Regions from separate parts of the Homo sapiens genome. Here region 2 is linked to region 1. The links come from fine-mapping of genetic effects on gene expression. A gene starts in region 1. The other region holds a variant in brackets. All regions are shown on one strand. Distances are from middle to middle. Region 1 holds the start of TAF1C (TATA-box binding protein associated factor, RNA polymerase I subunit C). Region 2 overlaps HSDL1 (hydroxysteroid dehydrogenase like 1).

Region 1 (4,387 bases):
GCACCAGGGAATTTTCTTTTTAGAAAAAAATTTTGTAGAGATGGGGGTTTTGCTCTGTTGACCAGTCTGGTCTTGAACTCCTGGACTCAAGCAACCCTCCCACCTCGGCCTCCCAAAGTGCTGGAATTATAGGCATGAGCCACTGTGCCTGGCTGGAACTTTCTTGAGTGATAGAAATGTTCTCTGTCTTGATCTGGGTGGTGTTCATGTGGGTTTCTATGTATGAATAAAAATTCAATGAGCTGTACATTTAAGACTCGTGTGCTTTACTGCATGTTGAGTATATGTCAGTTACAAAAGCAAATTGATAATGGCTTATTCAGAGAAAGGAGGAAAGGAAGAAATGGAACTGGCCTCGCAGTGCCAAAGCTGGATAGGCGTTTTACAAGGGTAATGTAGAATATTAGTGTGGTAGGCAAAATAATGGTTCCCCCAAAGATGTCTACAGCCTAATCCCCAGAACCTATGAGTATATTATTTGGCAAGGGGGCATTAAGGTTGCAGGTGGAAGTAAGGTTGCTAATCAGCTGCCTTTAAAATAGGGCTCTCACCTGTAACCCCAGCACTTTGGGAGGCCCAGGTGGGAAGGTAGCTTGAGCCCAGGAGTTAGAGACCAACTTGGGCAACATGATGAAATCCCATCTCTACAAAAACTACAAAAATTAGGCCGGGCGTGGTGGCTCATGCCTGTAATCCCAGCACTTTGGGAGGCCAAGGCGGGTGGATCACATGGTCAGGAGTTCAAGACCAGCCTGGCCAATATGGTGAAACCCCGTCCCTACTACAAATACAAAAATTAGCTGGGTGTGGTGGCAGGCACCTGTAGTCTCAGCTACTCGGGAGGCTGAGGCAGGAAAATCGTTTGAACCTGGAAGGTGGAGGTTGTAGTGAGCCAAGATCACGCCACTGCACTCCAGCCTGGGTGACAGAGTGAAACTCTGTCTCAAAATAAAAAAAAAAAAAGAAAATTAGCCAGGCATGGTGGTGCTTGCATGTAATCCCAGCTACTCGAGAGACTGAGGTGGGAGAATCATCTCAGCCTGGGAAGTTGAGGCTGCAATGAGCCATGATGGTACCACTGCACCCTAGCCTGGGCGACAGAGTGAGACCCTGTCTCAAAAAAATAAATAAAACAAATAAAATAGGGAGATTATCCTGGATTACCTGGGCGGGCCTACTATAATCACATGGGTCCTTACATGGGAAAGAGGGAGACAGAAGAGTAAAAACCAGAGAGATGGCCTCATGAGAAGAATCCGACTGGCATTGCTGGCTTTGAAGATGGAAAGGGGTCATGAGCCAAGGAATGCAGGCAGCTTCCAGAAGCCAGAAAAGACAAGATAGTGGACTCTTCCTTAGAGCCTCTCAAAAGGAACACAGCCCTGCTGGCACTTTTAGTCCAGGTAAAAACTTCCAGATAAAAACAATATAGGCCAGGCGTGGTGGCTCATCCTGTAATCCCAGCAATTTGGGAGGCCTAGGCAGGCGGATCACTTGAGGTCAGGAGTTCAAGACTCAGCCTGACCAACATGGTGAAACCCCGTCTCTACTAAAAATACAAAAATTAGCCGGGCATGGTGGCGCAGGCCTGTAATCCCAGCTACTCGGGAGGCTGAGGCAGAAGAATTGCTTGAACCCAAGAGGCGGAGGTTGCAGTGTGCCAAGATCGTGCCACTGCACTCTAGCCTCCATCTCAAAAAAATAAATAAAGACATAGATGACAGCTGAGAATTTGGAAATTGATTCTTTAAAGCAACGGTTCTCAAAGTATGGCCCCTGGACCAGCATCATCTGGGAACTTGCTAGAAATGCAGACTCTTGGGCCACATCCCAGATCTACTGAATCAGCAACTCGGGGGGCAGAGGTAGGGTGGAGCCTAGCAAACTTGTAACAAGCCCCCCAGGTGGTTCTAAGGCTCACTGAAGTTTGAGAAGTACTATGTTAGGATAACGGTAAGGTTCATGACTGGACAGTGGTTCTTAAAGCATGGCCCCCAGATAAGCAGTTTCAGCATCACCTGGGAACTTAGGCAAATCATCAGGTCCCACCCCAGACTCACCGAATTGGAGACTGTGTTTTAACTAGCCCCCCAGGTGCTACTGCTGACGCACGCTAGCTAGAGTTTGAAGACCACTGCCTAAAGCTCTCCCTGCCTGACCACCCCTGGAAAAGCTTCACTCTTAGTAGGTATTTGTACCCTTATTTGTAAAGCCCGCTTCTTGGGATTTAAGGACAATCAGTAGGATACCTACTGACCAATACAGGTCTGGCTTATAGTAGGTGTTCTGTGGGAGTTCGTTAAATGATTAATTTAATACAACTCTGAGGAAATTGGTGAAGTAGATGTGGGATTCGAACCTAAGTCCACCCGGCCTCCACTATTGGGACTCAAGGGAGCTTTATTTCCGCTGCCCACGCGCCGCCTGCACGCCCGTTCCCTCTCCTCCCGGGAGGGGGCGCGCCAGGACCCTAAGAGGCCTGGCTGGGAGGCGGGACTTCCTGCCTCCGCAGGAGGCACTTCCGGTCCAAACCGGAAGACCGTGGGTAGCTGCGGCGGGGCTGACCCGTCCCGAGTGCCAAAGCTGGGGTTCTACTTGAGATTTCCCTCGTGGTGCCAGGGTCCGGCGAGCATCACGCCGAGGCCCATTTTCCAGACGACCACGACGAGGCCGGGGTCACGTAAGTGCACGCATGCGCCCCCTCCGCGCGGACTGCGCGTGTTCGAGGAGCGGACCCGCAGATGTAGGAGGGGAGGGACGCCCCCAATCCCCAGTCCCCGCGGCAGGCTCACGTTTCGCAGTCCCCGGCCTGTCGTTATTGCGGATCCGACTGAGTTCTGTAGCCTTGGAGGTCTAAAGGGTCCTGGAGAGCCCGCAGCGAGGGCGGGAAGCCGGCCGGGGAAGTCGAGGCTGCCTTGTCTGAGGGCTTTTGTGGGGTCGTGCTCTCCACCAGCGCCCTCCGCCTGTCTAGGATCGTTTCAGGCTATGCGGTTCCAAGAGAAAATATTTTTGTTTCTATTTTATTTTTGAGATAGAACCTTGCTCTGTCACCCAGGCTGGAGTGCTGTGGCATGATCTTGGCTCACTGCAACCTCTGCCTCCCAGATTCAAGCGATTTTCGTGCCCAGCCTCCTCGGTAGTTGCGATTACAGGTGTACACCACCACGCCCGGCTAATTTTTGTATTTTTAGTATTGACAGGGTTTCACTGTATTGGCCGGACTGGTCTCAAACTTCTGGCCTCAGGTGATCCGCCCGCCTTGGCCTCCCAAAGTGCTGGGATTGCAGGCGGGAGCCACCGCACCCGGCCAAAGGGAAAAGATTTTTGTATAGCGAGACTCTAATGCTAGCGTTTGCATTTCGGTGCATGCGAGAGCACTGGTTCGGAGCTCTGCCTCTGAATCGGATGGGAATCAAGTCTTGGCTGTGGCAGCTAAGAGCTGTTGGACTAAAGTTCTTGCTGAGCCTTCGTTTCCTGAACTCTGTTAACAGGGACGGCGATAGAAGAGTGCAGCATTTAGCATGTGCCTGGCAGATAGATGCTGGCGCTTGGTCAGCGAGCGCTGCTGTTATTTTTGCCCCTGTTATTTTTGTTAATTAAAAAGGAGGGATGCTATGGCTGCTCATACTTCTAGAGGACTGTATTTACCAAAGCCTTGTGATGTAATTTTTTTTTTTCTTGAGATGGAGTTTCGCTCTTGTTGCCCAGGCTACAGTGCAATGGCGCGATCTCAGCTCACCGCAACCTCCGCCTCCCGGCTTCAAGGAATTCTCCTGCCTCAGCCTCCCGAGTAGCTGGGATTACAGGCATGCGTCACCACGCCCGGCTAATTTTGTATTTTTAGTAGAGACCGGGTTTCTCCACATTGGTCAGGCCAGTCTCGAACTCCCGACCTCAGGTGATCCGCCTGCCTCGGCCTCCCAAAGTACTAGGATTACCGGCGTGAGCCACCGCGCCCGGCCCCTTGTGATAGAAATTTATTTTTTTCAACCCCTAGTGCATTTTCTGGGAGGCACTGTGCTTGACAGTAGGAAGACGATGCTCAGATGCAGTCCCTGGCTGTGGAGTAACTTGAGCGTCTTGGGGGTGTAGTCTGTAAATGTATGATGACGGTACTTACGAGCCGGGAGAGAGGCTGCCCCTTGCCGTCTTTCTGACTCCATCTCCACCGCTCTCCACCTCGCTCACTCTGGCTGCCTCATTTTCTCACACACTTCACTGCTCTAGGATTTTCACAGTTGTTGACCGTTCGGCCTGGAACCCTCTTCCCAGTTGCGTACATGGTTCTCTCCTTCACTAGGTTCAGGCTGTGCTCAAACGCCACCTTCTCAACGAGGCTTTTCCTGGCTGGCTTTGCTGAAACCACGCCCTCAGCCCACTACCAGAT
Region 2 (4,387 bases), 60 kb after region 1:
GTTGTTTGGTCTGATTTGTTGAACTCTTTGTCAGCAACTCACATATGCTTATCCTGTATTTTTTCCTGAATTGATAATAAGCAAGTCTTTTTTTCTCCTGAATTTTCAAGTTCACCCAGAATTAAAAGTCTTTTCCTCCCCTCTGTCTCAACAGGCTTATTTAGACCACTTCAGCAGAGCCTTGCAATATGAATATGCCTCTAAAGGAATCTTTGTACAGAGTCTAATCCCTTTCTATGTAGCCACCAGCATGACAGCACCCAGCAACTTTCTGCACAGGTGCTCGTGGTTGGTGCCTTCGCCAAAAGTCTATGCACATCATGCTGTTTCTACTCTTGGGATTTCCAAAAGGACCACAGGATATTGGTCCCATTCTATTCAGGTAGGAGTGTGCTTCAGGTCTCATAATTAGATTAATGCATCATGAACCTATCTCAGTGATACAGAGAAATCTGATTAAAGCCTAAGATGAGAATTGTAAATTCTGACTCTTAAGCCTGACACTTAATAATTTTGGTTAAGACACTAAATTTTCTTTCTTTTTTTTTTTGAGATGGAGTCTGGCTCTGTCACCCAGGCTGGAGTGCAGTGGTGCGATCTCAGCTCACTGCAAGCTCCGCCTCCCGGGTTCATGCCATTCTCCTGCCTCAGCTTCCCGAGTAGCTGGGACTACAGGCACCTGCCACCACGCCTGGCTAATTTTTGTATTTTTAGTAGAGACGGGGTTTCACCGTGTTAGCCAGGATGGTCTTGATCTCCGGCCTCATGATCTGCCTGCCTCAGCCTCCCAAAGTGCTGAGATTACAGGCGTGAGCCACCGTGCCTGACCAAAGACACTAAATTTTCTTTTGTGAAATTATTACCTTAAGAATTTTCAAAAGTTCAATCTATGTGGCACCTTAAAGTGAAATATACTACTTTGGCTGGGGTGTGGTGGCTCACATCTGTAATCCCAGCACTTTGGGAAGCTGAGGTGGGTGGATCACCTAAGGTCAGGAGTTCGAGACCAACCTGGCCAATATGGTGAAACCCTGTCTGTACTAAAAATACAAAAATTAGCTAGGCTTAGTGGTGTGTGCCTGTAGTCCCAGCTACTTGGGAGGCTGAGGCAGGAGAATCGCTTGAACCCTGGAGGCGGAGGTTGCAGTGAGCCAAGATCACGCTACTGCACTCCAGCCTAGGCGACAGAGCAAGGCTCTGTTTCCAAAAAAAAAAAAAGAAATATGCTGCTGTAAGTGGATGTTAGGACTATAAAAATACTAAGTATTTACATGGGAATTTCAAAGTAAAAGATTCTAGTACTGCTTGAGGGTTACCTCTCAGTGAAAAATATAATCCAAAAAAACCACAAAACCACAAGATAGGGCTATATTTCATGCAACCATTTTATCAAATAATATCTCTGTATAGTCTTAGACTAATTTTTTCAAGAAGCATAGAATTTTTATTTTAAGCTTATTGTTTAGGCATGACAAAGGATTGGTACCTTTTAGTACTGTAGAAAGTAACTTTCTTAGATATTTGAAATTGTGATCGTAAGTATTAATTTGAGAATGCATAATTATCTATTACAATATATTTCAGTTCCTTTATCTGGTGTAGTAAAGAGATGTGCCCTAGTTTAGAATTTTTTTTTTTTTGAGATGGAATTCCGCTCTTGTTGCCCAGGCTGGAGTGTAATGGTGCGATCTTGGCTCACTGCAACCTCCACCTCTCGGGTTCAAGTGATGCTCCTGCCTCAGCCTCCGGAGTAGCTGGGACTACAGGTGCCTGCCACCACGCCCAGCAAATTTTTGTGTTTTTAGTAGAGATGGAGTTTCACCATGTTGGTCAGGCTGGTCTCGAACTCCTGATCTCAGGTGATCCACCCGCCTTGGCCTCCCAAAGTGCTGGGATTTACAAGCGTGAGCTGGCAGGGCGTGGTGGCTCAAGCCTGTAATCCCAGCACTTTGGGAGGCCAAGGCGGGCGGATCACGAGGTCAGGAGATCGAGACCATCCTGGCTAACACCGTGAAACCCCGTCTCTATTAAAAATACAAAAAAATTAGCTAGGCGTGGTGGTGGGCGCCTGTAGTCCCAGCTACTCAGGAGGCTGAGGCAGGAGAATGGCGTGAACCCGGGAGGCAGAGCTTGCAGTGAGCCGAGATCACACCACTGCACTCCAGCCTGGACGACAGAGCAAGACTCCGTCTCACAAAAAAAAAAAAAAAAAATACCAGTGTGAGTCACTGTACCTGGTCCGAATTTTTTTTTTTTTTTAATATTCGGAGTTTTCTTAATTATCAAACAGATATTTTTGGGACTGTTTGCATGAAGAGTATTAGATTTGCCACTACCAAATAAACATGTAAGTATATCAACAGTTAATTATGACTTTTATGAAAAGTGAGAGATTAATAAGAAGCAGTTTTGGTCGGGCGTGGTGGTGGCTCACATCTCTAATCCCAGCAGTTTGGGAGGCTGAGGCTGGTGGATCACCTGAGGTCAGGAGTTCGAGACCAGCCTTGCCAACATGGTGAAACCCCATCTCTACTAAAAATATAAAAATTAACTGGT[C/A]ATGGTGGTGCACGCCTGTAGTCCCAGCTACCTGGGAGTCTGAGGCATGAGAATCGCTTGAACCCAGGATGCGGAGGTGGCAGTGAGCTGATCACGTCACTGTACTCCAGCCTGGGTGACAGAGCTAGACTCTTATCTCAAAAAAAAAAAAAAAAAAAAAAAAAGAAGAAACAGTTTTATTTAAGTAGTTGTTTCCAGGTCCTTTAATTACTTGAGAAAAGCAGAGAAACCTAAAAAGTAGTCTTAGAAGTCACTGACCATAAAATTTTTTTAGAAATAAAGATATGAGGATCAGGTTTAGGTGCAGTAGATGTTTTGACTGTGTTTATAAAACACGAACAGTTTACTCAAAATTAAATTTTGTTCACATTGATAAACTTTCCTTGAGAATGTATTTTTCTGCCAAGAAATTCTGTTAAGCTGATTTAATTCCTGGAGTAGTTTTCTGTATAAAGTTGTTAAAACTTTCTGTTTTCATTTTATGTTACTCAAATTATTTTCAACACTATCATTTTTTATTTCCAATTTTACATCAAAGATTTGATTCATCCTTTGCTGTTTTGTCCATGGCATATTTCTCTGATAGCTTTTGCTGCTGTGATTTTGTTCACAAAGTGCGTGAGTGTGTGTGTGTGTGGGTGTGGGTGTGTCCTCCCTGGAGAGTAACCTGTGTCCATTTATTGACAAGAGGATTGAATGACCTCTATTATCATTCATCAGTTCAGTTCAAGACTAGAATGTCAGTACTTGCCAAGGGCCTGTCTCTCTTCTCTTTCGTATACACGGTGTTAGAACTTTCATTCGGTTCTGAACAAATCTGTTAGAGGAGTGTAGGCTTTCTCCACCTCAGCACTGTTGGCATTGAGAGCAGGTAATTCCTTGACATGGGGAGCGTCCTGTGTATTGTAGGATGTTGAACACCATCCTGGGCCTCCACCCACTAGATACCAGTAGCATCCACTCCCAGTGTGACGACCAAATTTGTTTTCAGACATTGCCCTATGTCTGCTGCTAGCACAAAGGCCCTGAGTGAGACCCTGAAGCAGAGCAGCATCAGCAGGACTCCCTTCCCTGGTCCCCTGAGCACCCCCATCATAGGTCAAGATACCATCCCAAGGTACTGGTGTTTCTGACCTGTTTTCTTGTTGAACTTTGTTCCATACTACCCCTCAAGCCCCAGTTTTCTCATAGAGTACTAACCACGTATGCGTCTGTCTGTTCCAACTGATTTATTCCTATAATGATTTTGTGGTGTTTTTTTTTTTTTTTTTGAGACAGAGTTTTGCTCTGTTGCCCAGGCTGGAGTGCAGTGCCGCGATCTCGGCTCACTGCAAGCTCCGCCTCCCCGGTTCACACCATTTTCCTGCCTCTGCCTCCTGAGTAGCTGGGACTACAGGCTCCCGCCACCACGCCTGGCTAATTTTTTGTATTTTTAGTAGAGATGGGGTTTCACCCTGTTAGCCAGGATGGTCTCGATCTCCTGACCTCATGATCCACCCGCCTCGGCCTCCCAAAGTGTTGGGATTACAGGCATGAGCCAGCGTGCCCAGCCGATTTTGTGGTTCTTAACCAGTGAACATTTTGTTCATATCACGTTAAGTAAAGACAGAATTGTATTTACATGCAGGACAGTCCAGCCTCATTACAGAAAGTCGGGTAGGTGGGTGGTGGTCATGTTTCTGTTCCATGTAGAATCTAGGGTAAGATCTTAGGCAAAAGTAGGTATTCAGTACAGTAGTACCTGGAGGCTTTTTCCTTTGTTGTATTTAATGTGATTGGTGGGTATTTGTTGTGACTGGTGGGTATTTGTTGTGATTGATTGGTGGGTATT

The links. PIP is the estimated chance that this variant, and not a neighbour inherited with it, causes the effect.
Region 2: its variant is fine-mapped to the expression of TAF1C in atrial appendage (GTEx, PIP 0.97).

Annotation. Positions count from the first base shown.
Region 1 is chr16:84,185,194-84,189,580 of GRCh38, reverse strand. It overlaps TAF1C (TATA-box binding protein associated factor, RNA polymerase I subunit C), which reads left to right and starts at 2,524. Exons shown (of 15, transcript NM_001243156.2): 1 at 2,524-2,680. RefSeq lists a silencer at 2,329-2,538 and an enhancer at 2,184-2,684.
Region 2 is chr16:84,125,543-84,129,929 of GRCh38, reverse strand. It overlaps HSDL1 (hydroxysteroid dehydrogenase like 1), which reads left to right. Exons shown (of 6, transcript NM_031463.5): 5 at 155-382. Among named protein-coding and RNA genes, the nearest start is that of MBTPS1-DT, 11 kb to the right of the region's middle. The variant C/A (reference allele first, on the strand shown) is at 2,557.